Regions from separate parts of the Homo sapiens genome. Here region 1 is linked to region 2. Evidence: fine-mapped QTL for protein levels in blood plasma. A gene starts in region 2. The other region holds a variant in brackets. All regions are shown on one strand. Distances are between the middles of the regions.

Evidence for each region. PIP is the posterior inclusion probability: the model's chance that the variant is causal. Protein levels are from the aptamer-based SomaScan assay of Sun 2018.
Region 1: its variant is fine-mapped to the plasma level of the NISCH protein (Sun 2018, PIP 0.95). The variant lies in the coding sequence of NISCH. If it changes the protein, the assay may bind it differently, which can mimic a change of level.

The regions. Positions count from the first base shown.
Region 1 is chr3:52,475,107-52,478,008 of GRCh38, reverse strand. NISCH (nischarin) reads right to left here. Exons shown (of 21, transcript NM_007184.4): 8 at 1,410-1,562; 9 at 367-435. Among named protein-coding and RNA genes, the nearest start is that of STAB1, 19 kb to the left of the region's middle. The variant C/T (reference allele first, on the strand shown) is at 1,433.
Region 2 is chr3:52,453,983-52,456,884 of GRCh38, reverse strand. NISCH (nischarin) reads right to left here and starts at 1,281. Exons shown (of 21, transcript NM_007184.4): 1 at 1,151-1,281. The coding sequence starts at 1,243. TNNC1 (troponin C1, slow skeletal and cardiac type) reads left to right here and starts at 2,844. Exons shown (of 6, transcript NM_003280.3): 1 at 2,844-2,893. The coding sequence starts at 2,870. RefSeq lists an enhancer at 1-302 and a silencer at 1,127-1,356.

The DNA of each region.
Region 1 (2,902 bases), 21 kb before region 2:
ACCCAAACTACCCAGTTCTGCAAGTCACTCTGACAGTTATTTTAGGAAGGGAAGTCCCTCTTCTCTGCCGCACATGCCACAGCACAGTGGCACCCCTGCAGACAGTTGGGGTGGGCGTTGAAAACATGGCTGTCCACCTTCAGGACGGAGGTGCATCATCATGCCTGGTTTGTATTTACTCATGCTTCCTAATTCTTTGGAACTAGAGCAACAATCACTCAGTGCATTGCTGGGATCCTAAAGCGAAGACAGCAACCCCTGCCCTTACAACCCCTGGCCAATTCCCAAGGCTGCGTCAGTCTCCTGAAATCTCAGGGCGGGGCCTTGGGAGTGTGTGCGGGCAGCACTGGTCTCCAAAGGCACTACCTGCAGATTGTCCACAACCAGCAATCCATTGTGACTCAGGTCCAGGAACTCAATCTTTGGGATCAGTTTCTTGTGAAAGAAAAGAACACCCGATGTTACTGTAGGGGGCTGGACCCCAAACACGGTCCCCGACACAGTGGACGGGCACCCCAGGACGCTTCCTCCCGACCATGGACTCCCACGGGCCGTCCCTGCAGGACCACTGGTGGGACATCTCCCGCTGCCCAGCCAGTAGCACATCCAAAGGCACACACAGGGCCCCCAGTGCTGGGCACTACTCAGTTTTCATGGAACACTTGGCTTGTGAAAATGACACACAGCAAGGTCCCAGACAGAGAAGAGAGTCTGTTCTTCTTCAACCCTGCCCACACTCCCTGAGCAGCGCAAACACGGGAACGACACTCTTACTGCCCAAATGCCCTCTGGGTGTCATTCTTTCATGGGCACATCTGTCATCTAAGGAGTGATTTTTCTGCTCCACTCTTTGGAGCAAATGTCATCATTTAGTGTGTTATAGTTTACCAAATTTACATGAAATTATTATGTTTTATTTGGTTCTAAGTACTACCTCACCAATTTTAAATGATCCCATTTTTTTTTCTTCTTTTGAGACGGAGTCTCACTCTGTCGCCCAGGCTGGAATGCAGTGGCCCTATCTCAGCTCACTGCAACATCCGCCTCCCGGGTTCAAGCGATTCTCCTGCCTAAGCCTCCCAAAGTAGCTGGGATTACAGGTGTGCACCACCACACCCAGCTAATTTTTGTATTTTTAGTAGAGATGGGGTTTCACCACATTGGTCAGGCTGGTCTCGAACTCCTGACCTCAAGTGATCCTCCCGCCTCGGCCTCCCAAAGTGCTGGGATTACAGGTGTGACCCACCACGCCCAGCCCCCATTTTGTAATTAACTTAAAATGGCAGGCAATGCACAGAGCACTAGATATAGGTTTTCCGTGGTCCTTCCTAAAAAAGCTGAGTTAAATACTCAAACTCAGGGTTTGGTGGGGCCAGAGAAACCCCTGGCACCTGCTGCTGAGAGCATACCACAGACTCGTCGATCTCGGAGA[C/T]GCTGTTGTGGCTCAGGTCAAGCGTGGTCAATGCCTGCCAAGTGGGGATGACGGCAGTCACAGGGCCTTCTAGGGTTGTGCCTTCAGGCTCCCACTCATCAAATTCTGAGGCTTCAGGAACAAGGACTTCCTGCATAAAAACATCTGTGTGGAGCACCACACTCGGGCCCTCACGCAACACTCACTGGGAACACAGTCGTTGCAGAATTTAAGGAAGGGCTGGAGCATATTTAGCATGTGGAAGTAAACTTGCATTAAAGCATGCCTTTGGTTCCTATGTCTTTAAACGATTGTGAAATCGTTCAAAGCTGAACAATTTACCACATAACAGCCACTTAGAATTAAGTCCTGGCCCTGCTTTAGGAGCAATGCTTTTCAAGCCCAAAGGGCCTTTGCCCTGGTGACCTGGTGATGCCTTTTCTAGCCTTTTCTCTTTTTTGAGATGGAGTCTCGCTCTGTCACCCAGGCTGGAGTGCAGTGGCGCAATCTCAGTTCACTGCCACCTCTGCCTCGCAGGCTCAAGCCATCCTTCTGTCTTAGCCTCCCCAGTAGCTGGGACTAGAGGTGTGTACCACCATGCCTGGCTAATTTTTGCATTTTTAATAGAGATGGGGGCTTCACCATGTTGGCAAGGCTGGTCTCAAACTCCTGACTTCAGGTGATCCACCCACCTCAGCCTCCCAAAGTGCTGGGATTACAGACGTGAGCCACAGCGCCTAGCCGTTTTTTCTTTGAGACACAGTCTCACTCTGTCACCCAGGCTGGAGTACAGTGGCGCCATCATGGCTCACTGCAGCCTCAAACTCGCAGGCACAAGCAAATCCTCCCATCTCAGCCTCTTGAGTAGCTGGGACTACAGGCGTACACCACCTTGCCCAGCTAATTAAAAAATTTTTTTCTGTAGAAACGAGGTCTCCCTACATAGCCCAGACTGGTCTCAAACTCCTGGGCTCAAGTGATCCTCCTGCCTTGGCCTCCCAAAGTGCTGGGATTATAGGTGCAAGCCACTGCTACTGGCCAGCCAACCGTCTTTTCTAGCTTCTCAGAGGCTGAAGGTGAGAATTCAGTTTCCAGGCAGCTGTGCTTTCCAAGCTGATGATGTGGTCCTCACTGTGGACACCAGGCCTTTAAAACCATTATTTCACAGGAATAAAGTCAGACAATGCTAAGATAAGGGGAGTAGCACAAAGCCCAGAGACCATCAAAATGGAGAAAGGCAGGCCTATTTGTTTTGACAAGACCTTTCTTCTCACAATGGGTCGCCCTGGGCTCCTTCAGCAAGACAGTGAGAAGTGCTCGGAGAGGGACCAGGTGGCCCAACACACTCTCTGCAAGCCTCAAGAGGAAAATTTTTCACCAAATCCAATTTTTTTTTTTTTTTTTTAAGAGACAAGGTCTCCCTATGTTGCCCAGGTTGGTCTCCAACTCCTAGGCTCAAGGAATCCTCCTGCCTTGGCCTCCCAAAATGCC
Region 2 (2,902 bases):
TGATGGCCAGTCAGCCATCAGCTTAGAGACCTCACCCGCCTCCTGCACCTAGTTTCCCCCTCCTCTCTGCAGCATGGAGCTGAAGCCTCCTCCAGCCCTGAGGAGCAGCCATTTCTCCAGGCTGGCCTGTTGCTTCAAGATCCACCCCTCTCCTCTTCCCATCCTGCCTGATTCCTTCCCCTTGCCTTCAGGAAAGGAGAAAAGAGCCAGAAGAATGGCCCTCAGAGCGGAAGGTTAGGATGAGGGCCAGGGAGGGGAGGTGCAGGCAGGCCCAAGGCCCCCACCCACTCCCTACCCTGCGGGAACAAAGGGGAGGAGGCAGGGAGGTGCTCTATGCCTAGTCCAGGGCCGGTTTTTGCCAGGCAGCCCACCAGGCTCACAGGCCTGGCATCCAACCCCGTCAAAGTCGGGAACTACCCGCTATTTGTCCTCTGTCTCCCCCATAGCTTAGAAGTGTGTGTGGGCAGCTTGTTGCCCCATCTCGCTCCCACAGCCCAAAGTCACGAAGATTCCTAAGGCTTATAGGGCCTGCGCTTTAGCACTGAGACCACCCCCATTTCTCCATAGATGGGCTCCACCCCTCCTCCGGTCTTGTCTCCGCCCGACCCCCAAGGCATCTGCTCCCCAGGTCTCTCCTGCACTTCTCAGAGAAAATCTCAACCACCACCTCAGGCTCCCCAGATCAGGGTCCTGACGCCTTCTCTTTCTTCAAGGCCTGCGAAGCCTGACCCTTTTCCCTGATTCCATCCATCAGAGACCCTCTCCCCATCGCCTTCCTCCTGGACCCCTGTAACGGTCTTCCAGGCCGGGGCCCCTCCAGTCCTAGAGGATCTAGAGGGGTTCCGCCTCATCTAGACACCCCCCTCCCCAAGCCCCCTTTATCCCCAGATGCCGCCCCCAACCCGAGCCTCCCTTTCTGATCGCGTACCCTTTTCCAAACCGCCTCCCCGGGCCCCGAGCAACCCTTCTCCCGGACCTGCGGGGCCCAGATCCCTTTCCTAGATCCCCCGTCCCAGCCCCCTCCTCGCAATCGCAGACCCTTCTACCCGCTCCTCGGGGCTGCAGATCCCGGACCCCTCCCCAAGCCCCCGAGTCGGACTCCCGGTTCCAGCCACCACCCCCGCTTCGGGTGCCCGCGCCCCCAACACACCGTATAAGTGTCCACAAGCTCCGAGCCCACGACGCGCGCTTCCTTGGCCGGCTCGGCTTCCCGCTCGGGCCCGAAGGTGCGCGCGGTCGCCATGTTCGGGTCTCCGCCGCCACCGCCGCCCGGCGCAGACTAGCAGCAGCAGGGGGCGGGGTCAACGTCCCACCGCCCCCCGGCCCCCGCCGCCCGTCGCCCCCGCCGCGCGCTGCGCCGCCATCTTGGCCCCGCCTTCTTCCTGCGCCCTCGCCCCGCCCCCGCGCGTGACTGACAGGGGCCACTCAGGGCGCGCGTGCGAGGTGCTCGCTTGCGTAATCTACCTGCGTGGCGCCGCCGGCGGTACCCTGCACAGCCTGCTAGAAACTGAGACCCCGGGTGGTGACAGCTCTGGGCATCGCCCCTGGGTCCTCGGGAAGAGGGGACAGAAGGTCCCGAGTCTCCCAGGCCACACGAAGCAAGTCACTGCTCTTCCTGGCCTCAGTTTACTCCTCCTGATAAAGGAGGCCATAATAGTGCCTCACCTGGCTGTTGGGCTCTTTCTCTTTAGGGCAAGGCAGGTTGGAGGGGAAAATAGGACCTGTGCTTACCGCCGGAGCAGGGCGAGAGTGATTCTGGGCCAGTTCTGAACCTCTCTGAGATTCGGAGATCTCTTGTCAGTGGGGCTTCTGGACAACTGAGTGGGTTGATTGATGCGCGGCCCAGCACGCAGTAGTGCTCGAGGCAGGGAGCGTGTTTATCAAGAGGGATAAACTTGATACGAACTCTGTACGAAGGAAGGTGTAGGTGGATGGAGGGGTGTGTGCTGCCACTGAGCACAAGAACCCCACGGGGTGGCCTGCCAAAGTTCAAAACGAGGGAGACAGGTTGATCTGGACCCAGGAACTACAGTGCTGAATCCTAAACCGGGGAAAGATGAGACCTAGAAGAGGGAGGTGGTAACCTAATTGGAGGGTGAGGAGGGAAAGAGCCTGCCACAGATGGGGCATCTATAGGGGTGCTGTTGAATAACTGAGAGCAGCTGACTTAAGCCCGAAGTGGGTACTTCTCCCTGGGCAGATGGGAGGTCTGGGACAGGCTCCTCTGGCAGAAGGGCTCCTGGCCACCCTGTCCTAAGGTGGGTCAGTCACTTCCTCCTTCACCAGTTCCACAGCATCTTACTATGAGCTTGGCATTCGAGGCTTCTCTTGGCAGGGCCCTGCACTCCTAGCCTCTCCTTGCACATTGCACCCCCATTCCAGAGAGGTTTAGTTAAAGGCGGGGGTTACCAAGTCAGTCAGATCTTGGGCAAGTCACCACTCCTCCAGAGCCTCAGTTTCCTTATCTGGAAAGTGGAGGTCATGGCAACCCGCCAACCTGGTTGGATGGGAGCCTGAGCTGTTGTGTTGCACCTTGCCTGGGGCCCACGACTTTGTAGCTCCTGTCCTGCACTGGGCTTATGTTTTCATTCATTCCAGAAACCTTTTCAGAGAGTCCCTTTGGGGAGTGTGGGGGACAGGAGGGAAAGAAACCTGGTCCTTGTAGCCGTTCGTCTGCTCCCTGCCCTGGGCAGAGGACGTGGGGACTCAGGCCAGCCTGAGATCACTGGGACCAGAGGAGGGGCTGGAGGATACTACACGCAGGGGTGGGCTGGGCTGGGCTGGGCTGGGCCAGGAATGCAGCGGGGCAGGGCTATTTAAGTCAAGGGCCGGCTGGCAACCCCAGCAAGCTGTCCTGTGAGCCGCCAGCATGGATGACATCTACAAGGCTGCGGTGAGGGAC